Linked DNA regions of Homo sapiens: region 2 is linked to region 1. The links come from fine-mapping of genetic effects on gene expression. A gene starts in region 1. The other region holds a variant in brackets. All regions are shown on one strand. Distances are between the middles of the regions. Region 1 holds the start of DRAXIN (dorsal inhibitory axon guidance protein). Region 2 overlaps AGTRAP (angiotensin II receptor associated protein).

The links.
Region 2: its variant is fine-mapped to the expression of DRAXIN in whole blood (TOPMed, PIP above 0.99).

What each region holds. Positions count from the first base shown.
Region 1 is chr1:11,683,265-11,699,364 of GRCh38, reverse strand. It overlaps DRAXIN (dorsal inhibitory axon guidance protein), which reads right to left and starts at 7,655. Exons shown (of 7, transcript NM_198545.4): 1 at 7,512-7,655. It also overlaps a transcript of MAD2L2 not described here. RefSeq lists enhancers at 8,340-8,847, 8,848-9,357, 14,221-14,721, 15,671-16,100.
Region 2 is chr1:11,744,986-11,753,976 of GRCh38, reverse strand. It overlaps AGTRAP (angiotensin II receptor associated protein), which reads right to left. Exons shown (of 5, transcript NM_020350.5): 2 at 8,140-8,174; 3 at 6,432-6,537; 4 at 5,367-5,562; 5 at 3,208-3,900. The coding sequence ends at 3,785. Among named protein-coding and RNA genes, the nearest start is that of C1orf167, 13 kb to the left of the region's middle. RefSeq lists enhancers at 4,439-5,115, 5,116-5,792. The variant A/C (reference allele first, on the strand shown) is at 4,632.

The sequences.
Region 1 (16,100 bases):
AATAGAGACATTTTTGATTTGGGGAAAGGCATTCTTGGTGGTGGTGGAGTGCTACACTGCTTATAAAACACTGTTTTGTTGATTTTATGTATTGGGATTACGGATCGAATTTCATTTGGGAAAAGATTTGCACTACTCAAAACATTTCTTTTTGGCAGGGAGTAGGGGAGGAGGACCACTGGGCCATTGGATTAGGTGGTCCCAAAGGCCCTGTCTGCCAAGGGAGCCTGAGAATTTATGATCTATGACGATAAGACTCCTCCATCTGTCTGTCTGTTCAACTGTCAGACCCCTATGGGGAGGGGTGACAGACAATATCCAGTAGGGTGTGGACTGAGTCTCCAGGAGCTAGGGGCAAAATCTTCCCTTCCGGATACTCCCAACCTAGGAGCTCTGTGGGGAGGAATTGTATCCCCAGATTCAGGAGATTTTGTTGAATGCAGGAATCATCTCAGGTTTTATGTCTCTGTAGTTCCAGGAAGATTTTACGATTGCTTTTTTGTTTGTTTGTAGACAGAGTCTTGCTCTGCCCTACAGGCTGGAGTAGTTGTACCATCATAGCTCACTGTAGCCTCAACCTCTCCAGCTCAAGCAATCTTCCTGCCTCAGTCTCCTAAGTAGCTGGGACAACAGCCACAAACCATCATGCCAGGCTAATTTTTTCTTAGTTTTAGTTGAGATGAGGTCTCTCCCTATGTTGCCCAGGCTGGTCTTGAACTTCTGGCCTCAAGTGATCCTCCCACCTTGGCCTCCCAAAGTTCTGGAATTACAGGCGTGAGTCCCGGGCCCAGCAATTGCTTTAACTTGAGATTGATCTGCCCAACTTTTCCCTCTGGCTACTCCTCATCACTCACATGGACACTTCCTGAAACGGCAGGAATTGGAGATGGGCAGTGCAGTCCGGAAGCCCCATCTGCTCTTAGCAGAGTGTGGCCACTCTGCAGTCAGCCCCAGATCTAGTTAGGGCTTCCTGGAGCCCCGGCCCCCTAGGAGCAGACTTCTGTCTTGTTTAGGTGGAGCTGACACCCCTAGGGCTGGAAAGTGGGTAATTTTCTTGTTCAGTCAAAACAGTCATATCCTACATGAGAGTTGGGGAACAACTGTATGGATTCTAAATTAATTCCTGGGCTGAGCTCTTCCCAAGGTAATTTGAAACGAGAGTGTTCTAACCCCCCTCCTGATCCCTCCCAACATCTCCTCCCTTCATGAGTCTATTCCCTTGTCTGTGAAATGGGATTATTAGGCTGCCATGAGACTTGACTACTTAGGAAGTCAGTGCTTCTGTGTGGTTTGTGTGTGGGTGGGTGGTGGTGGTGTTCCGGGTATGGATGGAGCCCGGCAGTGCAGGTGGCATAGAGGATGGGGCGGGTGGGATTCACAGCAGCTGCCCTGCTGGGTGTTCACTGGCATACTGGTGCGTTGATCATCCTGGACTAGTCCCTACCCATCTCCCTGCCTCCCTGTGGCTCTGTATCGCCCAAAGTGTCACCTGACCAATAGGAAGGGGCCTCTCAGCAACCCCTAGGCCTCAGAGCAGCCAGAGCCCCACCTACCCCTCCACGGGTCTTTCTCAGGCACAGAGCTCTGCCTTTTGCTCTGCTGGGGACTGCTGCCTCCTTGCGATGGAGATCGCAGGGGAGAGTGAATCCCGGTGGTCAGCCACTAGCTGAGCCCCTCTGTGTGCAGAACCAGGATGCCAGACAAGGGCACCTGCTCCAGTCTGAAGGGAGAGACCTGGCTTCTGCTCCTGGAAACCACCAGTCTGAGGGCGGACACATAGTCCTGGCTCATTGGGATAGGAGGGAACCAGGTCATGCCTTAGAGGACTCTATGACTATTAGGGGACCTAGCCCATGGCTGCAGAGTGCTTTCAATCTAAGCCAGAAGCAGCCCCTGCCCTGGGGAAGCCTCCCATCTAGCAGGGTAGATACAGTTGCTGTCCTCAGGAATTTGCCAATCTGATAGGAGAGGCACAACTCTGGCCTTGGGAGGGTCCCAGAACATGGAGCTGCTGATCTGCCAGCAAAGACACAGTCCTTGCCTCCAGGTGTCCCCACTGATAAGGGAGACAGTCCGGGTGAGAGGCCACAGGTCTCATTAATGAGAGGTGGAGGCCCAGACATCACTACTACCGATTCCAGCTCACAGATGTCAGCCCAAACCCACTAAGCTGACCCATGGGAGGGCCCTCACTGAGCAAAGCAGAAGGAGCTAGACAACCTGGGCAAGTTTTTTAACCTCTCTGGGCCCCAGTTTCCTCTCTTGTAAAATGTTAGCTGTCATGAGGATTGGGGAGTAAAAGTTGTTTTTTTTTTTTTTTTTAATTATTAAGATGGAATCTCGTTCTGTTGCCCAGGCTGGAGTGCAATGGCACGATCTCGGCTCACTGCAACTTCTGCCTCACGGGCTCAAGTGATTCTTCTGCCTTAGCCTCCCAAGCAGCTGGGATTACAGGCATGCACCACCATGCCTGGCTATTTTGATTTGTTTTGTTTTTGTTTTTTGAGACAGAGTCTTGCTCTGTCACCAGGCTGGAGTGCAGTGGCGCGATCTTGGCTCACTGAAACCAGGAGGCTCATTGCCTCCTGGGTTCAAGCAATTCTTCTGCCTCAGCCTCCCGAGTAGCTGGGACTACAGGTGCACACCACCACGCCCGGCTAATTTTTGCATTTTTAGTACAGACAGAGTTTCACCGTGTTGATTAGGATGTTCTCGATCTCTTGACCTCGTGACCTGCTCGCTTTGGCCTCCCAAAGTGTTTTTTGTTTTGGTTTTTTTGAGACAGATTTTTGCTCTTGTTGCCCAGGCTGGAGTGCGATGGCACAATCTCAGCTAACTGCAACCTCCGCCTCCCAGGTTCAAGCGATTCTCCTGCCTCAGCCTTCCGAGTAACTGGGATTACAGGCTCCCACCACCATGCCCGGCTAATTTTTGTATTTTTAGTAGAGACGGGGTTTTACCACCTTGGCCAGGCTGGTCTCGAACTCCTGACCTCATGATCCGCCTGCCTCTGTCTCCCAAAGTGCTGGGATTACAGGCGTGAGCCACCGCACCCGGCTGGGGAGTAAATGTTTATAAAGTAAATGGGACACAGAAGGGTGAAATAAACAGTAGTTGTTACTATGGGAAGGGGAGACAGAGGGAGTAAGGTGGCAGGCATGGGTGTGGTGGGGGCCAGGGAGTTTCCTGGAAGCATTTGTGCATCTGTGCCTGGGTGTGCAAAGGGGCAGGCGCAGGTGGCTGCGTCCTCTGTCCTCAGTGGGGTGATCGATGGCAGGGCAGGACTGTCCTAGGCCAGCCTGGAGGGGACCATTGTCCTGGCAAATGAGGTTTGGCTTCCCTGCAGGGGCAGCTCCATCTGCTTTTATTGTTTCCGACAGCAGCCTTGGGATTTTCAACCCACCCCAGACCTCACACCTTAAAAACCTGTACAGGGGCTTTGCGGGAGTTCATCAGAGGCCCCACCCATTCAAAGGCCTCCAGCTTCCAGCATTCCCCGCTCACCTGCTGAACTCGAGTCCTACCTCCTGCTAGATTATAGGTACTTGTGGCCCCTCTTCCTCCTCTCCTAGGCAATTTGTGGGTGGGGGAAGCAACCCTCAGCCTCCATATTCCTCAAACTTCATTATCTTGGTACCTAGACCATTTAGCTCTGTGTTTGTTTGGGTATCATCTACTGTTCTAGGTTCTAGGCCCAGAGCTTTATAGGCATTATTTAACTTGACCCTTTGAAGTATATATATATATATATATTTTTTTTTTTGAGACAGAATCTCACTCTGTTGCCCAGGCTGGAGTGCAGTGGTGCAATCTCAGCTCACTGCAGCCTCTGCTCCCTGCAACCTGTGCCTCCTGGGTTCAAGTGATTCTACTACCTCAGCCTCCCAAGTAGCTGGGATTATAGGCGTGCACCACACTTCCCAGCTAATTTTTGTATCTTTTTTTTTTAGTAGAGATAGGGTTGCACCATGTTGGCCAGGCTGGTCTCGAACCCCTGGCCTCAAGTGAGCTAGCTGCCTCGGCCTCCCAAAGTGCTGGGATTATAGGCATAAGCCACTGCACCTGGCCTGAAGTGGATAATATTTTTCAGATGGTAATAGCAACAATGGCTGTGTAGGAACATTAAGACAATGACCAAGGGACTTGCCTAAGATAGCCTAGTAGAGCAAGTGATAGAGCTGGGATTCGAACCCACAGCCATCTGACTCCTCAGACTCATCATCCCTGCTCCATCACATTCCTGGCCGAGACTGCTCCTCATGCTGCCATCCAGTAACCAACACCAGTGCAGCTGCTGTGAGTCCCAGGGAAGGTGGCATGAGCTGGGGCCTGACCCAGAGCCTGGTACACCTGAAAACCATTAAGTCCTGCAATGAGCTCCTTCCAGTTGCTCTGGGTTCTAGCAGGAGCCTCATCCCTCATAACCACCCCTTCAACCCCATCCCATCAAGAGAAGTCTTGGTGTTGGGGCATGGGTGGGTCATGGTGTTGGGGCATGGGGCGTTGTCAAGCTGGAACCTGGGGTGGCAGAGCCTCTACTGGCAAGGATTCAGCCATCCTCCCACAACCTTCTTCTTCTTGGGGACCACTGGCCACAGCGACTCACCCCTGAGAAGGAAGGCTGGAGTAGGGCATGCAGAGAGGGCCAGCGGAGCAAGAGGGAGGCAGCTCCAACCCACTGGGCCAGAACAGGGGTGCTCCTATGACCTGCCCCCCAGGAACATGCTCATGCCTCTGAGGGAAGTTCGGGGAGGCTGGGATGCAAGTCCCTGCTCCATCACATTCCTGGCCGACACACGTGAAGGAACTCCCTCTGGGTCCCACAGCTGCTAAGTGATCAGCTGGGCTTCAAACCCAATCTGCACGGCTGGGGTGAGCCACTTCGTTCTCTGGTCTCAGTTTCTACCCCTATAACAGGCACAGAGACCACCCTCATTTTCCAGAGTGATACAGGGCCTCAGTATCACAGGGGTTTCCGGGCAGCTTGCTCCCCCTCCAACCTCCCCAGCCAGAGGGCCAGCTCCGCCCTGGCCCCACCAGCAGGACCCAGCAGAACTCAGCAAGACACTGGGGCTTGCAGTTTTCAGTTCATTCCTGTGCCTTTGACCAGGAATCACATTCAATATAACAGGTGTGCACAGAGCCCCTACTGCGTGCCAGGCACTGGGACCACAAGCAGAAGGAGACCCAGCCCCCACCCAGGGAGGAGCAGACCCCTCCCAGATAGGGATTATGCCGTGCAGTTCACAAGAGCTAGGGAGGCAAGGGAGTGCCGGGGTGCTTCCCACAGGAGAGGACATCAGACCTCCTTGGTCAGCAAAGACAGAGGGCTGAGATCAAACACAGGGCAGGGCAGAAAGAGCCCTAGCAAAAGCTCAGAGGAGGGCAGACTGTGGAGATGGTCAGTTCTCCATCGTGGCTGCAACCTGGGACGCAGAGGGGACAATGCTGGGAGGCAGGCAGGACAGGGCTAGGCTGGGCTGAGGTCTCTGTAGTTAACTGAGTGGCCACAGTGAGCCACTGAGGACTATGGACTGGGAGGGCGATGAATTGAATAGTGGGGAGGAAGGCAGCGGAGAGAGCAGAGAGGACCTGAGCAAGGTTCCCAAGCCTCTGAGCTGGCTTTGCTGCAGAAGGCAGGGGGTAGAGATGGTATGAAGGGCCGGGTTCACCAAAGTAGGGCCTGTCTGCCAGGTCGGATTTCGAGCAGGAGCCTGGATGGGGGATGTCGTGGGGATATCCAGCCGTTCTTGCCTCTAAAGAGAAAGGTTCCAGTTGCCAGCCCTGGCTGTGGCTGAAATAAGAACTCAGCCAGGGGAGCCTGGAACCTGCCAGCTGGGAGGTTTCCCTCTTCTGAAGTTGCCCTCATTAAGACACTCAGGCCACGTCACTGCCAGACTCCTGGAGTGGTGTGTCACATGTTATGACCACCTAGACAGTGGTCAGGGGGCTTGGGCAAGCACACAGCAGGTCCAGGAGCCAGCAAGACAATCCCCTCAGAGGAAAGGAAGTGGCCTGTGAGCTGGTGCCGCTATTAAAGGCATCAAGCCAAGACTGAGGTTCAGAATTGGGGGTGAGTCACCGGACGCCTTCTGATGGGTGATCAGTTGTTGGCAACACCAGCTCAGCCACACTGATCTCATTTTGAAAAAAAGTGACCCATTGGCCCTGATTGTTTTAGCTGATTTTAGGACAAGCAAAGAGGAGGAGAGAGAGAAAGAGAAGAGTGCTTGCAAGGGTGTGGACGCCTGTATGGGCACGAGGAGGTGAAGGTGACAGGAAGTGTGATGGGGGAAGAGGCTGTGGTGGTGGGGTTACTCTGAAGTGTCTCTAAGCCTTGACTTTGAGATCCATTTCTGTGGAGCCCCCTGTCCCCACCCCATCCCAGGTCTGTAGACTCCCCTCCCCTCCCCTCCCTTCCTCCACAGGGTGTGTGAACCAGCACCAAGCGGCACCCCACAATTTCCACACACATCCCTATAGGTAGGGACTAGCACCATCCCTGTTTTGTGACAGGAACACTGAGGCTCAGAGAGGTGCATTCCTTTGTCCGAGATCACTCCCAGAGCCCCAGTGTACCCGACTCCAGATGCATAGTACTGAACCGGTTCCAGACACCAGTGTGTCACTGGGCTGGGAGGTGGGCAGCGTGGAGGGAGCATATAGGGCAGGGGAGACCACCGGGCGGAGAGGATGGCCCAGGGAGCACCCAGCTGAGGAAAGCAAGAAAGACTTGGCGGGAAACCCCAGCCCTCTCTCATCTCATACCCCGGCCCCGAAGGCGGCTGAGACCCTTGACGAGCGGACGGAGAAAAGCCAAAAGCCGGCGGTGGGGAGCAGGAGGGACAGAGCGGGAGACCACAGGCGAAAGACCAGCGCCGTCGGGGGAGCCAGGCTGAGTACCTTCCTGGGCACAGATGGGACGGCGCGGGGCCACCGGCGGTGCTGGTTCCGGGCGCACTCAGCGACCCCGGCCACACACCCCAGCCTCCTGGGCGGCCTCGAAAGGGGCTGGAGGGCACGCCCGCCAGCTCTGCCCGGGGCTCAGGGAGTCTTCGAAGACTTCTTCCAACGGTGGCGGACTGGGGCCCCCTGCCTGAGAGACCACCCGGAGACTCAGAGACAGAGAGACAAAGGGAGACTGGGTCAGGGAGAGAGAAGGCTAGTGCCGAGGAGAGTAGGTGCGAGCCGGGACCCCAGAGGGCGGCGAGGGCGCGCGCGAGGCCGAGTGTCAGAGCGTGGAAAAGTGGGCGTCCAGCGGTAGGTGGACGGATGGGGAGCCCGGGAGCAGAGCCAGGGTCCGTGGGCAGACGCGGCGAGGAGAGGAGGCGGCGGAAGGACTGGCGGATAGACGGGTCCGAGGGCTGGGAAGGAGGCAGCATCCTCACTTCCAGCCTCGGGACCCCGCGCACCCCGCCCCTGGGCGCGCCAGGTAGCCCACCTTTGTCCGGGCTCGCAGCCAGGTGGGGCGGGAGGGGCGGAGCCAGGGGCGGGCCGAGGCCGTGCCTTACCTGTCCGGCCGGCGGGTAGGGGGAGGAGGGGCTCGGGGCCGAGCGCCCGCGGGAGCCGAGCGCAGCCGAGGGCGAGCCGCGGAACGGGGCCGGCGTGGAGAGGTGCGCGGGCAGCCGGAGGATGTGCCCGGGCTGAGCGGGACTGGAAGGAAGGGGGAGTGGGCGGGCAGGAGGGAAGGGGGCGGGAGCGCGGGGAGGGGACAGAGGAGGGGCGGCGGGTGGCGGGCTCGACTGCCCCCAGCCGAGGGGCAGCCCCGGGGCCGGGCCCGGCGCGCACCCGGCCAGCGCGCCCTCGCCAGCTGCGCTCTGAGTTCTGGGCCAGCTCCCCAGAGGCCTAGGCGCCGCCGCCGCGAGGGCGCGGGGCAGACAAAGGAGGCAGACAAAGGCGGGCGCAGCCCAGCAGCCGTGCGGGCACCGGGCGAGGCAGGCCCACTCCTCCCGGTGCGTAAGAGCCGCCTCGGCGCGGCCCAGGGCGCGTGGGACGGGAGGGGCTCCGGCAGTTGTGGCGCCTCTGGAGCGGCCCCGCGCAGGGCGGGCGACAAAGGGCCGCGGCGGGCGGTCCTCGGTGGACCCCAACAATGGAGCGAGGCTGCGCGCTCAGCTGCGGCCGCGTCTGTCAGGGCAGGGGCCCGGGGCCACAAAAGGATTATTCCGCCTAGACTGTCAAAAGGGACGGAAGAAATGCCCAGGGCGGGGGAGGCGGGACGGGGAACGGCGGGGCCTTTGTAGCCGCAGAAAGTGCGCAGAGTGGGCAGGCGGGGTTCTCCGAGAGGTCGCTCCTGGATGTAGGGGTACAAAGGGTCTTCAAAGTGCTACCAGCTCACCTGGGGCGCTGACGGCGCACCTGTGCCCTCTTTCCCGGTAGGGAAGGGAGAAAGACAACCGCCCCAATACACACACACACAAACACACACACACACACACTCACACGCGGCGCGGCTCTCGCCACGCCCCGTCCAAAGCCGGCCTGAAGCTTCTCAGACCGGCCCAACCCGGACAAAGCCAGCGCTGGGGCCGGCTCATCCATCACCGCGCGGGGCGCCGTGTCCTGACGACCCTGGGAGTCTGAGAATGCTGGGTTATGGGTCCCGTGCCTCCCATAACTCACGACGGGGTCGGTGGGGCCACGGACGCTGCAAAGATCAAAGAGCGATGGGGCCGGACTCCCATATGTGGGAAGCAGCGCTCCCACCTGGCGCCCTGAGCTCGCCAGGTGGCTTCCATTTCGACTGTTTTCTTTCTCCAGCGTGTGGCAAATTATGACTTTGAGGTTTTAGAACACAGTTCTGCCGTCAGGCTAAATGTCTGTGTTCCTCTTCTGATGCCGTCCCCTATGACCTCGAGCAAGTCGCCTGACCTCTGAGCTCATGATTATACCTAAATTTCAGTGTTCTAGGCGTGAATGCAGTGCCCTGTGTAAGGAGATAACGTTTCTAAGGTCTGGCCCATAGGAAATGCTCCTGTAAAATTAGCTGCCATTGTTACCGTGATATTATTAGCTTGGTGGGCACCAGGATGGATTGATGAGAACACTGAACTGTTTATTCACTGAAAGGTTTGAGTCATCCATCCCATAAATACCTATTGAACACCTACTATGTGCCGGCACCGGAGGTACAGTAGTAAACAACATGGACAAGAATCCCTGCCCCCATGGAGCTCAGATTCTAGTGAAGGAGACAGAAGATAAGTGAACAAATAAATATAAATGATGTCAGGTGGTGATTAGTGCTATGAAGAAAAGTAAAGCACATTACAGACAAAGCATGAAGGGACGAGGTGTTGTTTTACATAAAGTTATTAGGAAAGGCCTCTTTGCTGGGGCAGTTCTTTTGGCAAAGAAAAGGAGGTAATGAGCCACGTGGTTGTGGGGAGAAGACTTGCAAGCAGAAGAGCCACTGCAAAGGTCCTGGAGCGGGAGTGTGCTTGGTGTGTTTGGTGGAGAAGAGTCAGTCTGGAACAGAGTGAGGTGACATCAGACAGGGAGCTGGGATAGGACCATGTTGTTACAGGAAAGGGGTCCTGACCCAGACCTCAGGAGAGGGTTCTTGGATCTCGCACAAGAAATAATTCAGGGCGAGTCCATAGAGTAAAAAGTTTATTAAGACAGTAGAGGAATAAAAAGAATGACTACTCCATAGACAGCACAGCACCAAGGGTTGCTGGTTGCCCATTTTTATGGTTATTTCCTGATGATGTGCTAAACAAAGGGTGGATTATTCATGCTTCTCCCCTCCCCCCGCCTTTTGTTTTTCTTTTTGAGAGGGAGTCTTGCTCTCACCCAGGCTGGAGTGCAGTGGCACAATCTCAGCTCACTGCAACCTCCACCTCCCGGGTTCAAGCAATTCTCCTGCCTCAGCCTCCCGAGTAGCTGGGATTACAGGTGCACACCACCATGCCCGCTAACTTTGTGTTTTCAGTAGAGATGGGGTTTCACCATGTTGGCCAGGCCGGTCTTGAACTCCTGACCTCAGGTGATCCACCTGTCTCAGCCTCCCAAAGTGCTGGGATTACAGGCTCGAGCTACAGCACCCAGCCTTTTTTTTTTTTTTTTTTTTTTTGAGACAGAGTCTCACTTTGTTGCCCAGGCTTGTATAGTGGCACAGTCTCGGCTCACTGCAACTTCTGCCTCCCAGGTTCAAGCGATTCATGCCTCAGCCTCCCAGTTAGCTGGGGTTACAGGCACACACCGCCATGCTCAGCTAATTTTTTGTATTTTTAGTAGAGACAGGGTTTCGCCATGTTGCCCAGGCGGGTCTCGAACTCCTGACCCCAGGCAATCTGCCTGCCTTGGCCTCCCAAAGTGCTAGGGTTACAGGGGTAAGCCAGTGTGCCTGGCCTTTGCTTCCCCTTTTTAGACCATATAGGGTAACGTCCTGATGTTGCCATGGCATTTGTAAACTGCCATGGCACTGGTGGGAGTGGAGCAGTGAGGATGACCAGAGGTTGGTCTCGTGGCCATCTTGCTTTTGGTGGGTTTTGACAGGCTTCCTTACTGCAAACTGTTTTATCAGCAAGGTCTTTATGACCTGTATCTTGTGCTGATCTCCTGTCTCATACTGTGACTTAGAATGCCTTAGCCATCTGGGAATATGGCCCAGCAAGTCCCAACCCCATTTGACCCAGCCCCTACTCAAGATGGGGTTGCTCTGGTTCAGACACCTCTAACAATGTGAGCCTGCAAAGGCCACAGGGAGGACTTGAGCTTTTTAGAGGGACCATGAGCAGAGCAGAGACATGATCCGACTTAGGTTTTTAGCAGGTTTGCTGATTGCTTTTTCTTTTTTTTTTTTGAGATGCAGTCTTGCTCTGTTGTCCAGGCTGGAGTGCAGTGGCGCGATCTTGGCTCACTGCAACCTCTGCCTCCCAAGTTCAAGCGATTCGCCTGCCTCAGCTTCCTGAGTAGCTGTGACTACAGGCACCTGCCACCATGCCTGGCTAATTTTTTGTATTTTTAGTAGAGACAGAGTTTCCCCATGTTAGCCAGGATGGTCTCGATATCCTGACCTCAGGTGATTCGCCAGCCTCGGCCTCCCAAAGTTCTGGGATTACAGGCATGAGCCACCGTGCCCGGCCACGTGTGCTGATTCCTAAGGTTGGGAGTAGTCTGCAGTGGGACAAGGGTGAAAGCAAGAGACCAGCTAAGTACTGTGGCAGAGAAGAGATGATGGTCACCTGGGCCTGGGAGAGGGGGCAGTGTGCAGCCAGCATGATTTGCGTCGCCAAGGATAGAGCTGTGGGCCAGTATTCATGAGCCAGGAGAAAAACCTTGGAGTCTCTGGTTCAAATGCTGCTACTGTGGCTGTCCCCTGGCTGGGTGATCTTCCGATGTGCTTGGAGCTGGGGTGACACAATATGAAAAGGTGGATGTTAGGAGAGGCCTGGACTCCTATCCCATCCAGTTTATGATGACTTTAGGGCCTCAGTTTCCTTGTCTGTAAAATGAGGTACTTGAGGGGCCAAAGCAGGCTCCAATATTCATCAACTGATGACTGGATAAGCAGATGTGGTCTATCCATACACGGGAGTATTTTGGTTCTACGAAGGAATGAAGTATCAATATGTGATTCGACCTGGATGAATCTTGAAAACATTATGCTAAGTGGAACAAGCCAGACATAAAAGACCATATTTTGTACAATTACTTTTATATGGAATGTTCCGTATTGGCAAGTCCAGGTCAGGCGCAGTGGCTCATGCCTGTAATCCTAGCACTTTGAGAGGGTGAGGCAGGAGGACCTCTTGAAGCCAGGAGTTGGAGACCAGCCTGGCAACATAGTGAGACCCCTTCTCTACAGAAAATTTTAAAAATTAGTCTGGGCGTGGTGGCTCATGCCTGTCATCCCAACACTTTGGGAGGCCAAGGTAGGTGGGTCACCTGAGGTCAGGAGTTCGAGACCAGCCTGGCCAATATGGCAAAACCTCATGTCTACTAAAAATTTAAAAATTAGCCAAGCGTGATGGAGGTCGCCTGTAGTCCCAGCTACTCGGGAGGCTGAGGCAGGAGAATCGCTTGAATCGGGGAGGCAGAGATTTCATTGAGCCGAGATTGCACCACCGCCCTCCAGCCTGGGTGGCAGAGAGAGACTCCGTCTCAAAAAAGAAATAAATGAAATAAAAATTAGCTGGGTGTGATGGTGCACACCTGTAGCCCCAGCTATTGGGGAGGCTGAGGTGGGAGGATCGCTTGAGCCCAGGAGGTTGAGGCTTCAGTGAGCTGTGATTGCGTCACTGCACTCCAGCCTAGATGACAGAGTGAGACCCTGTCTCCAAAAAATAAAATAAAAAAATAAAAAAATTGGACAATCCATAGAACAGAAAGTAGATTAGTAGTTTTGGAACTGATGTACCTGGCAACACACTTTGGGCATGAACAACCCTTCTCAAGACATCAGGAGTGATGAAAATGTTCCGAATTAGAGAGTAGCGATGTACAACATTGTAACTATACTAAAAATCACTGAATTGTACCCAGGGAAAATGTGAACTTTATGGTTTGTGAATTATATCTCCACAGAGAAGTTTTTTTTTTTTTTTTTTTTTTTTAAAGTGGCAGTTGAGCTGGATCAAAAGTTCTTACCTTGTGGCCCAGGATGGCTTCTGAATATATCTGGACACTCCTGATGTTGTGTAAGGCATTTAGTGTCTCTGGGCCGGGCGCAGTGGCTCAAGCCTGTAATCCCAACACTTTGGCAGGTGGAGGCGGGCACATCACTTGGGGTCAGGAGTTCGAGGCCAGCCTGGCCAACATGGCGAAACCCCGTCTGTACTAAAAGTACAAAAAAATTAGCTAGGCGCGGTGGCTTATGCCAGTAATCCCAGAGCTTTGGGAGGCTGAAGCAGGAACTCTGGAGGCCAAATGTTCAAGACCAGCCTGGGTAACACAGCGAGACCCTGTCTCTATGAAAAAAGAGCAGATGATCAGTAAGGTCCCCCTGACCACTGAGGGGTCAGCAACACTGGGAATCAGTAGAACCCCACGGAGGGAATGGCAGGTGAGGGCTTTGCTCTGGCTGAAGTGTCGGAAGCCATCTCAGGTCAGCAGTGAACCCTGGGATCTGGGACAGCTGTCCAGGTCAGGCCTCACACCAGAAGGCAGATGAGAGCGGAGAGGAGCTGTCAGCAGGAAGTCCTTGTCTTTAGGCATCTTGTTCCGTGATGATGCGTGTCCTCCCTAGGGCACCTTGGGAGTTGCCTGCTGCCTTGGGAAATGGAAATGGAGCTATGGGGATGCCGCTAAGGATGGTTTGGATGGGGTTTTGAAAAGTGTGACAGCTTGTCCAGAGGGTTTGTTCTGGGGGCTTAAATAGTGTATATAGACCTTAATATCATTGTCATAACAGTCATTAATTGAGCATTTATGTGCCAGGCATTGTGCACTTTATTTATTTGTTTATTTTTTGAGACAGGGTCTCACTTTATAACCCAGGTTGGAGTGCAGTGGTACAAACATGGCTCACTGCAGCGTTGATTTCCTGGGCTCAAGTGATCCTCCCACCTCAGCCCCCTAAGTAGCTGGGAATACAGGTGCACGCCACCATGCTCAGCTAATTTTTATATTTTTTGTAGAGTTTTTGCCATGTTGCCCAGGCTGGTCTCGAAGTCCTGAGCTCAAGTGGTCCGTCCACCTTGGCCTCCCAAAAAGCTGGGATTATAGGCGTGAGCCACCATGCCTGGCATTGTGCACTTTATATTTTTTATAAACATGAACATGGACATAAACATTTGCTCTTTGCTCAATCCTATGAAATTAGAACTACCATTATGCCATTTTACAGATGAGCAAACTGAGGTTCAGAGAAAGAAGGGCCTCGCAGCTGGTTAAGGGGCAGTGTTGGGGAGAGAAGCAGCAGGTTGGACACATGAGCAGGCCCAGTGGGTGCTGGGGACACCATAGGGAACATGCCACAGCCCTTGCTTTTGTTTTTGAAAATAGCTTTTCTCTGCATAGTGCCACCCATAGCCCGGGCACTGAAGTCGACGTGTTTTGCTCCTCATCCAGACTCAGTTGGGATTCAAGTCAGGCAAGTGGTAATGAGCCACTGTCCACCATCACTTCATTCCTCTGCCATTCATTCTTTCATTCACTCATTTGACACACATTTGCTGAGAACCTGAATTCGGGCTGGGCATGGTGGCTCAAGCCTGTAATCTCAGCATTTTGCGAGGGTGAGAGGCAGGAGGATCACTTGAGCCCAGGAGTTCGAGACCAGCCTAGGCAACATGGGGAGACCCTGCCTCTGCAAAAAATTTGAAAAATCAGCCAGGTGTGGTGGTGCACACCTGTAATCCTAGCTACTCAAGAGGCTGAGGTAGGAGGATCCCTTGAGCCCAGGAGTTTCAGGCTGCAGTGAGCTATGATTGCCCCACTGCACTCTAGCCTGGGTGACAAGGAGAGACCCTGTCTCTGGGAAAAAAAAAAAAAGAGAGAGAGAGAGAGAACCTGAATTTGGCCAGGCACTATATTGAAATAATGAATGAGGGCTGGGTCCCTGCCCCGGAGCATTGCAACTGGATGGGCCCCTGAGCGTCAGGATATCAGGAGATTGTCACCAGGCTATGTGTGTCTCACTCTGTATGTCCCCCATACCCATGTGATTGGTGTCCTGGGAACCTTAGGCAGGGTGGGAGAGCTGATTCATTCTGCCATCAGCCTGGTGGGGATGGGAGGGGTCTTGGAATCATTTCTGGGGTCTGGAAACTTCATTGCCCGGTTCACTCACTGTGGGTTTGTTCCATAAACCCCAGCAGTCCTCCTCTGCCCGAGCAGGTCTTCCTCTTTGCTGGGCTGGTGCTCACAGCTCACCTTCTCAGTTTCCATTTCAGTGTCTCTTGGGAGTGATTTTCCCTCCGTCCCCATCAGAGATCCTCAGGGACCTGCTCTAGTTGGCAAATAAACTCTTGCTCCCCCTAAACACCCATCCTTCCTTCCCAGCCGCCCTCCTACATATTGTCATTATGGTGAAAAATATGCAAATAACTTTGAACAACAGTCTCCCAGCAGACGGATGTTCAAAAATGTAATAAATTAACCCCATAATGTAATCTGGATCCCACAACCATCCATCATGCTGATGCGATTAAGATATGCAAAACCAGATGCTGAAGAGCGCATGGATGGAGTGTTGGCAGAGCTCCCCGGATGGGCCCATGCTGACTCGGCCCCCTGCCCCTGCCCCCGCCCCCATGGAACCTGAGGCCATCAGAGGTTTAGGGAACATCTATCTGGCCTGTTCATTTCACTAATGAGACTGAAGCCTTTTAGGGGTTTGGGGTCAGATGGGTTTGAATCCCTCCCCATCTGCTTCCTAACCCACCTTCCTTCTGTTTGTGATTGGATCTGAACCCAAGGCCCCAAACCCAGACTTTTTTTGTTTTTTTGAGATGGAGTTCTCGCTCTTGTTGCCCAGGCTGGAGTGCAATGGTGCGATCTTGGCTCACCACAACCTCCGCCTCCCGGGTTCAAGTGACTGTCCTGCCTCAGCCTCCTGAGTAGCTGGGATTACAGGCATGCGCCACCACACCTGGCTAATTTTGTATTTTTAGTAGAGATGGGGTTTCTCCATGTTGGTCAGGTTGATCTCAAACTCCTGACCTCAGGTGATCCACCAGCCTCAGCCTCCCAAAGTGCTGGGATTACAGGCGTGAGCCACCCACCGTGCCCAGCTGACGTTTTTTTTTAATTGCAATAATTTTTGGTTACATGGGTAAGTTATTTAGTGGTGACTGCTGAGATTTTGGTGCATCCATCACCTCAGCAGTGTACACTGTACCCAGTATGTAGTCTTTTGTCCCTCACCTTCCCACCCTTCCCTCACCTTCCCACCCTTCCTTCCCCCCGAGTCCCCAAAGTCCAATATATCATTCCTATGCCTTTGCATCCTCATAGGTTAACTCCCACTTACAAGTGAGAACATATGATATTTGCAAACCCAGATATTTTTATCCACAGGTTTCTAGTTGACAGGGTGGGTACTCCAGTGTCAAGAGCTGTTGGGACCTCAGTTTCCCCAAGGAAAAATGACAGTTGAGTTTATGTCCTCCAAGGTTTTTCTGACGTTCTTAGCTCTGTGTGTCAGGAGTTCTACG
Region 2 (8,991 bases), 58 kb before region 1:
CTTCCTGTGGTTGACAGCCTCAAGAATGTCAGACACTATATAAACCTGCAGGGTGCCCTACTTCCAAGTCCCTACAGACATGGGCCTTTTAAAAGTTGCACAGTGGTGAGAATGTCCAGTTGGAAAGCCTCGTTAGCACAGTGCAGCCCGTCCATGGCTGAAGTCCTGGGCTTATCCTGGACCTGCCCTCATCCTGGACCTGCCCTCCCACGTCCTCCCTCCTGGCTAGCGGCAGCTCCAGCCTTCCAGTCAGGCCCACACCTCACAGTCCCGGGCTTGTCTCTGCATCCTCTATCCAGCCCATCACAGGTCCTGCTGCTTTGCCTTCAGAGAGTGTCCAAGAGTTGACCACTTGTCACCACCCCCACCACTGCCCCCATCCAAGCCACCAACATGGTCCTTTTAGAATGCAAGCCAGGTGCAGTGGCTTATGCCTGTAATCCCAGCACTTTGGGAAGCCAAGGTGGGCAGATCACTTGAGGCTAGGAGTCCAAGAGCAGCCTGGCCAACATGGTGAACCCCATCTCTACTAAAAATACAAAAATTAGCTGGGCATGTTGGTAGGCACCTGTTATCCCAGCTATTTGGAAGGCTGAGGCAGGAGAATCGCTTGAACCCAGCTGCAGTGAGCCAAGATTGCACCATTGCACGCCAGCCTGGGCAACAAGAGCGAAACTCTGTCTCAAAACAAAACAAAACAAAACAAAACGCCAGGCGCAGTGGCTCACGCCTGTAATCCCAGCACTTTGGGAGGCCGAGGCAGGTGGATCACAAGGTCAGGAGATCAAGACCATCCTGACCAACATGGAGAAACCCCATCTCTACTAAAAATACAAAATTAGCTGGGCGTGGTGGCGCATGCCTGTAATCCCAGCTACTCAGGAAGCTGAGGCAGGAGAATTGTTTGAACCTGGGAGGCAGAGGTTGTGGTGAGCTGAGATCGCGTCACTGCACTCCAGCCTGGGCGACAGAGGGAGACTCCGTCTCAAAAAAAAAAAGAATATAAGGCAGACCTTGCCCGGCTCTGACCAACACCCTCCAGGGGCTCCCATCTCATTCAGCCAGAACTGGAGTCCTCAGAATGACTTGCTAAGCCTGCACATCTGACCCCAGCCACCTTCTGACCTCATTGTCTTCTTCTCTCCCTCCCCCACCCTCTCTGCTCAGCCACTCTCTGCCTCAGGCCTTGTTAGCTGTCACCAAGAACCTCTCATGCTAAATGGAATGCCCCTGGGTGACTTTTCCCGCACCCTGGCATCCCCTGCCTCTGGAACACGGCCTCACTCACAGTGGGCTCTGGGGCGCTTGTTGTATGTTAGAAGCTCTCCCTGTTAAGGCCGCTGTGTGGAAGGGGCAGCCACATGGTTGCCTCCTCCACCGTTTCTGTCTGCCTCTGATGGCCCTCCGGCTCCCGACTGCCTGCACAGTCGGGGGGTGGCACAGTGCCTGCAAATCTAAGCCACCCTCTCCCACTCCCTGAGCAGCTCCTAGCCAATGACTGGAAAGCCTGGCACCCTTGCTTTCATCGCAGGCTCTGCTTCTGGGGTACACTCTGAGACAGGAGCTTTCCTCTGTCCTCTCCCGCAAAGAGCCGGTTCAACCTGGGGGTCTGGGACGATGAGGGACTGAGGTGTCTAGATACACTCCCCTGTGCGTGGCCCAGGCTGCATCATCTGCCCCCACTGCCTGGGCCAAGCCCCTGCCCTGGCTTTTCATTCCCTTTGGGAATCTGACACGTTCACGACGCAGGTACACAAGCCTTCCCGGGGCCAGGATGCTGTATACACAAGATAAACGGACTTGGGTCTTAGTCCCATTCCCCTCGGGTCACGCTCCTCCTCCACCCAGGGTGGCTACAGTCATGAACCTGACAGGTGTCCTTCTAGTCCATGCTTTTCTATTTTACCGCACATACACCCAGGAACAACATATGGCATTGCTGTGAGGTCTGAAAATTCATCCCAATGCCATTCTGCAATCTGCTTTGTTCACATTTGCGGGGGGCCAACGTTGGTGGAAATAGGTCTGGTTTAACAGCTGTAACTGCTGCACTGTGCTCCATACGATGAATGGACCGTGGCTTACTGGTCCGTACTCCCTATAATGAATGGACCGTGGCTTACTGGTCCATACTCCCTACAATGAATGGACTGTGGCTTCCTGGTCCATACTCCCTACAATGAATAGACTGTGGCTTCCTGGTCCATACTCCCTACAATGAATAGACTGTGGCTTCCTGGTCCATACTCCCTGTAATGAATGGACCGTGGCTTACTGGTCCGTCTCCCGACAGTGAGGCTGTTTCCAGTTTCTCACAACTGCAGCTGCTCAGCAGCCCTCTGCCCGGAGCACAGCCCCTTCCCCACAGCAGCCTTCCTCCCTGACCCAGAGGCCCATGTCCTCTTCTTTCGGGGCTCTTGCCTCTGTCTGTAATCCTCCAGGTGGGAAGACTCCTAGGTTGAGAGCAGGCTCCCAAGGTCACCACTGCAGCCCCAAGCCCGCTCGGCACCAGGCAGGTACTGAGCCTCTTTTGATTGACAGATGGACGCAAGAGAATAATGGGAGTTGTGCACTAGGCCTTGACCCTGTGCCAGGGACAAGCCAGGATGGCCTGGGAAAGCCCTGGCACTTGGTGCCCAGGGGGCAGAAGAGCAAGCTGTGAATAGCTAGACCTGTCCGTGGGGTGGGCCGAGGCCCTGGGGAACTTCTGGACGTGTCAGCCCAAGTCAGCTGTGACCAGACACAGGGGCTACCAGGAAGAGGTCGCCCCTGCCTCCTAACCTAGCATCGTCACTGGCCTGAGGAGCAGGTCCACTGCTAACAAGTTCACCATCACTTAGGGAGCCCTCCTCACGCCAGGCACTTCACACCTGGAGCAGGCACCAACCCTTTCTAGAAGACACTGAAGGCATGCAGCTAGTAAGTGGCAGAGCAGGATTCCAAAGAGTGCCTGGGTCATCTGGTTCAGAGAAACGGATGCCCACGCACCACACCCACCAGTGTCTCTCTCTCCTGTGGCCTCTGCTAGGCCAGAGCCAGGCTCAAGCCCAGCTCAGCCAACGCACATGCCTGTTTCCTCCTGCCATGACAGAATGGGGCAGCACAGCACAGGCTCCACCTGGGAACTGGCAGGAGACATCTTCCCAGGAACAAGGCCAGGCCCCAGCCCAGCCAGGAGATTGAAGGTGGTTCAAAACACAGCCCATCTACAGAATTCCCCAAACTTTAATGCTGTGCTCTGAAAAGGGAGGCTGGAGGTTGTGGTGGGACACAGTGTTGCTGACACCTCTGGCCTCCAGCCCTGCATCCCTAGGCACCATGTGACCAGGCAGTGAGAAGGACGGGGCCTCACTCCCATGCCAGACTGCTCCTCGGGCTGAGCAGGACCTGAAGCTCTCAGGGCTTCCACCAAAGCCCAGCAAACTTGGGGGAGGCCTGAGGGGGCATCAGCAGTCCTTAAAGGCCTGAGCTTGCAACACTCAGGCAGGACTCGGCTGAGGGCCTCTGTGGTGCCACCATGGGGTAGGAGGTAAAGAGAGACCCTGGTTCCAGCCTGGGAACCAGTGGGTGCCCTGAAGGGAGGGGAGGCCTCAGGGAGTTCGGGACAGGAGTGTGCATGGTACTGGGCGGCCCATGGGGGCTCCTGGCCTCTTGGTTCAGGCAATCCCTGAGCTGGGGACACATTCCATCTTAGGTCCAAGAGACGGAGGTCAGGAGCATCCCTAGAACGACCTCCCAGGCACGAGGAAGGCCCGGGGCAGGGCCGGGCGCAGCGTGGCTGGCTTCAGTACCCTCGGGCATCTTGACTCCTGCCCTCTGGGACTGCAAAGGGATCTGCGGGCGCCTCTGCTGAGTCAATCGTCTGGTAGGCACTACGGTCCTGAGAAGACCCAAGGAAACCTAGGTGACAGGGGACATGGTGGGAAAGAAAAATGAAGGGTGAGAACTCGGGATGTTCAGCTGAGTCCAACCCAAGATCCACCCCCGCCACCCTCGGGCTGGGCATCCTGACACCATGCACAGAGACAGAGGCAGCAGCCCCAGGCCCTAAACCTTTAGCGTGTATTATTCATTCAATCCTGCCGTATCCCTGTGCGACGGGTATTTTTATTGTCCCCACTTTACAGATGAGGAGACTGTGGGTCAAAGGGATGAAGTGACTTGCCCGAGATCACACAGCTCAAAGCTGATGATGCTGGGACCCACGCCTAGGCAGCCGAGTCCAAAGCCAGGCTCCTGGCCCCTGTGCCATGGGCTTCCCCAGGCAGCACGTGCTTAGGAACCTGGGCAGAGGGACATCAGCCCCGGGCCCACGCACTCCTCTCCAGCTCCCCTCCCAGGTACAAGGACACCACATTACCATATCCAGATGGCCTCGGAGGCTGGGGCTGGGTCCAAGGCAGGGCCGTAGGGCTCCGAGTACGCCACATGCCTCACTCCCATCCCCTACTCTGTACATTCATCCCGGGACCCTGAACAAGTCCCAAAGGATGTGGGCCTCAGTTTCCTCATCTGTCCAATGGGAGAAACATTCTGGCACCCCTCACCTGGGGGCAGGCCCAGGCAGTGCTGAGGTCAGCCACTGTGGGCAGCCCCAGGCCATTCCCACCCTCAACCAGCTGGTGGCAGTC[A/C]CAGGCCACGTGGGGCATCTCATCTCAGGAGTGAAAGGCAGAAGGCCACACCCTACCACCTCCCTCCACTCCTCTCAAAGAGAGAGAGAAAGGAAGAGAGAGAGAGGTGTCAGAGAGCAGGCAAATGGCTCGGCCACCAGGAGAAGGAGTACAGGAGTTCAGAGAGGGCGTGGGAGAGGGCAGGTGTAAGGCTGGGTGAGTGGGGAGGGGCCGGTGGGCAGGGAAAGTGCCCCCTGTTCAGGGCTGTCTTCACTGAGGCTCCCACAGCCTACACTGGCACGGGCTCTGCCCTGGCCACCTAGCAGTCTCTGCAGCAGGAGAGGGAAGACCCCATGTGGCAGGAAATGGGGTTCCAGTGATGGGCCCCGGTGAGAACAGAGAGGAGACCTGTAGGTGCCCGTGGCCCTCAGGATGGAGACAGCCCAGGGCTGCCCCTGGGAACTAAATGGTACCCCCAGCTGTGCCTGTGTTCTGGGCTGAGAGAAGGGCCCAGCCTCAGCTTCACAGCAGAAGAAGGTCACGGCAGACCAGGACAACCAGGGGACCCCTGGGCTCCTGCAGCAGAGACTAGGAGCTTGGACCTGTCCAGCCTAGTACAGAGCGCCCATGCCACGCTCTCCCTGCACCTTGAGCCCTGGCCCCATGGGGCAAGGCTGGCTCACTGAGGGAGAGGCTGGAGGCCAGGCAAGGGAGAGAAGGGAGCGGTGAGGAGCTGGCTGGAGGTGGTGGCCTCACCAGTGTGGACCAGGAGCTCACCCCCGCGCTCCCGGTACATGTGGTAGACGAAGCAGCAGGAGAGCGGCTTGAGCAGCAAGCTGAGGATGGCCATGCCCACGCCAAAGCGGCCCGTGTCCGTGAGGCTGACCCGCGGGTAGAAGATGCTGATGTGCACGATGTCCAGGAAGATGGTGGCCAGCAAGCCACCCAGAAACTGCAAGACACACCACACTGATGAGCACAACACCCCCACCACGCTCCGTGGCTCCCCCGCCACACACCGGATGGGAAGCCGTTTCATGCCCTGCTGTGTCCTTGGGGCTTGCGGGAAAATGGATCAAGCAAGCAGGCAGGGCCCCGCTGGGGAGCCGCTGGCTGAGACTGCAGTCTGGGGGCAGGGATGCCGGGGGCCCAGGTCTCGGTTCCACCAGAGCCTCCCTCCCCACCCATTTCCCGTCATCTCCAAGGCCATGATGGGCACAAGACTTGGCTCTAGAACCTCCATAGAGGAAGGTTCCTTGGAGTTCACCCAGTCCTTCTCCAACACAAAGAAAATCTCTTCTCAGTCATCCTGAGGCCCTGGCCTCGGCTTGAAGAGCCCGTGCGGGAGTGCTCACTGCCCCACGGGGCTCCGTGGGTGCTGAGAAGCTCCCCCTGTGGGAGGTTTCGGTGGGGCAGGGTCACCTCTACTTCCTAAAGTAGTGAAATGCCCTCTTGGCCGGGTCTCCCAGCCATATCCCCTCCCCTAAAAGAGAGCCGCAGAGGGAGGTTACAGGGGATGTTCCACTGCTCTTGCGAAGTGGCTAATCCGAGGCACTGGTGGGACCCACCCCATGGCTTTCCTCAGGGAGATAATGGCAGACTTGGGGTTCTCTAAGCCAGACAAGAAGAGCAGCAGGCTGGGCTCCTGAACACAGGCATGGGCCGGAGCCCAGGAGGCTGATGAACAGGCTTTAGACAATGGGAAGTGGTGGCCCAAGGAAGAGGGGGAAGATTGGGATGGGACGGGGTAGCAGAGCCAGGCTATGTCTTGCCCTGTGCTGCGGCTCCCCGCCTTGCCGCCTCTCCCCCACCCTGGCTCACCATGCTTATGGCGTCGATGGAGTCCCGCTGAGCCACAGCCCACACGCCCAAGGCCAGGATGGTGAAGTTGGCCCAGGCATAGGAGCCTGAGAATACAATGCAGCCCCTGTAGGAAGAGGTAGCTCAGTCCCGTCAGGAGGCCACCACCCCGCAGGTCACCTCCCTCCTGCTCCGGCGTCTCAGGGCCTCCTCCCAGAACATGCCATAGTCTTCGAGGCCACCCGGCTGTGTGCCAGCAAATCCCATGGGCTCCGCCTCCCACCCAGACCCTGGATCTGGCTGTGTCCCTGTAGATCCAAAGCACCTCCCTCTCCTGGCAGATGACAGCCGCAGCCACCCTGTGCCAGCGTCCTGACTGCCACTCTGTTCTCTAAACAGCAACCGGTAACGTAGTCAGATGCTGTCACTCCTCTGCTAAAAATCCTCCAACAGTTTTCTGTCCCATTTGGAATAAAATGCAGACTCTTCACCAGGGCCTAAGGGGCCTGTGGGATCCCGGACACAGCCTCGCCCTACTGACCTCCCAGCCACTGCCCTGTGCGGCGGGCGCCCTCTACCCTGACACCTGGCCCTCCTTTTGTCATTCACCCTGAGACTCGAATGTTCACCCTGAGACTCCTTCCCTTGCCCACCGGTGCTAAGTACAAGTTCGTCACTTTCCTAACACAAGGCCCGCCCTATTCTATTTTTAGGGTACTGATACTGACATTGTTGACTTACTTGTCAATCCAATCAAAATCATAGTGAACACCGATCACTTGCTAGTACCTAGCATGGTTCTGTTTTAAATTAACTCATTCATGTACATTTATGTTAATAACCATAGGAAGGAAGTATTATTGTTACCCTCACTTTAGAGATGAGGAAACTGAGACACAATGAGGTTAAGTAACTCGCCCAAGGTCACACAGTTGCTGAGCAGTGGGGCTGGGATTTGGAGTCTGGCTGGAGAGGCCATGCTCTTGCTCACCCTGCTGTGCTGCAAGGAAGACTCAGGGGGACAGGGACTGAGTCTACCTCATTTATTACCAAACCCACTGGGCCTTGCCTTCCCCTGCATGCAGCGGGCGCTTCCTAGATTTATAGGACATTCACTAAAGTGTAACATGCAGAAGACATGTGCAAGGCAGGTGTGGAGTGCCATTCGGTTCAATAGGTCTTTGAATAAACCATCTTATCTTTTGCTTTTAAGAAAGCAGGTGCCTGGGTCCCAGCCCAGAATCACCAACTCAGAATCTTGGGGAAGTGTGACTAAGAAATCTGTATTTTGGCCCTGCTTCTCAAGGTCGTGAATCATGATGGTTACAGTTCACATTACTCACAGCTGTTGCCCTGTGCGCTGCACTTCGAAGTTTGCAAAGTGCACAGGTGAGCTCAATGGTTTCCAGTCTTGGTTTGGCAGAGAAATGTCTCCAGAAGCTCAACAGATTAAAAGAGATGGTAAAGGTGAAAATCAAGCTGCAGTGCTGAGGCCTCACTGTGGGGCAGGCCCTGGGGAGCTCTGATGAGCACTTCCACGTCTCCCTCCCAGCTCCTGCAGGGTGTGCAATCCTTATGCCTATTGTACAGACGGAAATCAAGACCCGGAGAGGCAGAGCTGTCTGGCCCAAAGTGACCTGGTTAAAACACGGCAGAACCAGGACCTGACCCGGCTGACACAGACCCTGAGACCGCAGGAGACACACAAGATACCCACAGAGTCACTTACCAGGTTGTCAGCAGCCAGTGACCTAGGAGAATCACCTGTGGCACAACAAGGGGGAGAGAAGAGGTCTGTGAACATGACCACCACAGGGGCAGGAAAGCGTCGGGTGCAGAAAACACAGGACGCCCCTGCGCCTGGCACCTCTGAGGGCCTCAGTAATGTCTGTTGAAAAGGCACACCAGCAACTGCAGGTGGCCCAGGAGTGAAGGAGGAGGAAGAAAGCAGGCCAGGCCAGGGAGGGGCCGCTTCATGCCTTCACCCCTCCCATGGGGCAGCTGACACCCACACCCCTTCCAAGCGTCAGAGGCGTATGAACCAGAGCAATTCCATCTTGAATAGGAGCTGGGTAAAATAAGGCTGAAACCTAGTGGGCTGCATTCCCAGATGGTTAAGGCATTCTAAGTCACAGGATGAGACAGGAGGTCAGCACAAGGTACAGGTCATAAAGACCTTGCTGACAAAACGGGTTACAGTAAAGAAGCCGGCTAAAACCCACCCAAATCAAGATGGCCACGAGAGTAACCTCTGGTTGTCCTCACTGCTACACTCCCACCAGCACTATGACAGTTTACAAATGCCATGGCAACGTCAGAAAGTTACCCTATATTGTCTAAAAAGGGGAGGCATGAATAATCCACCCCTTGGTTAGCATACTATCAAGAAATAACTATAAAAATGGGCAACCAGCCTGGGCGCGGTGGATCACACCTGTAATCCCAGCATTTTGGGAGGCCGAGGTGGGTGGATCACCTGAGGTCAGGAGTTCAGGACCAGCCTGGCCAACATGGTGAAACCCTGTCTCTACTAAAAATACAAAAATTAGCCGGGCATGGTGGTGTGTGCCTGTAATCCCAG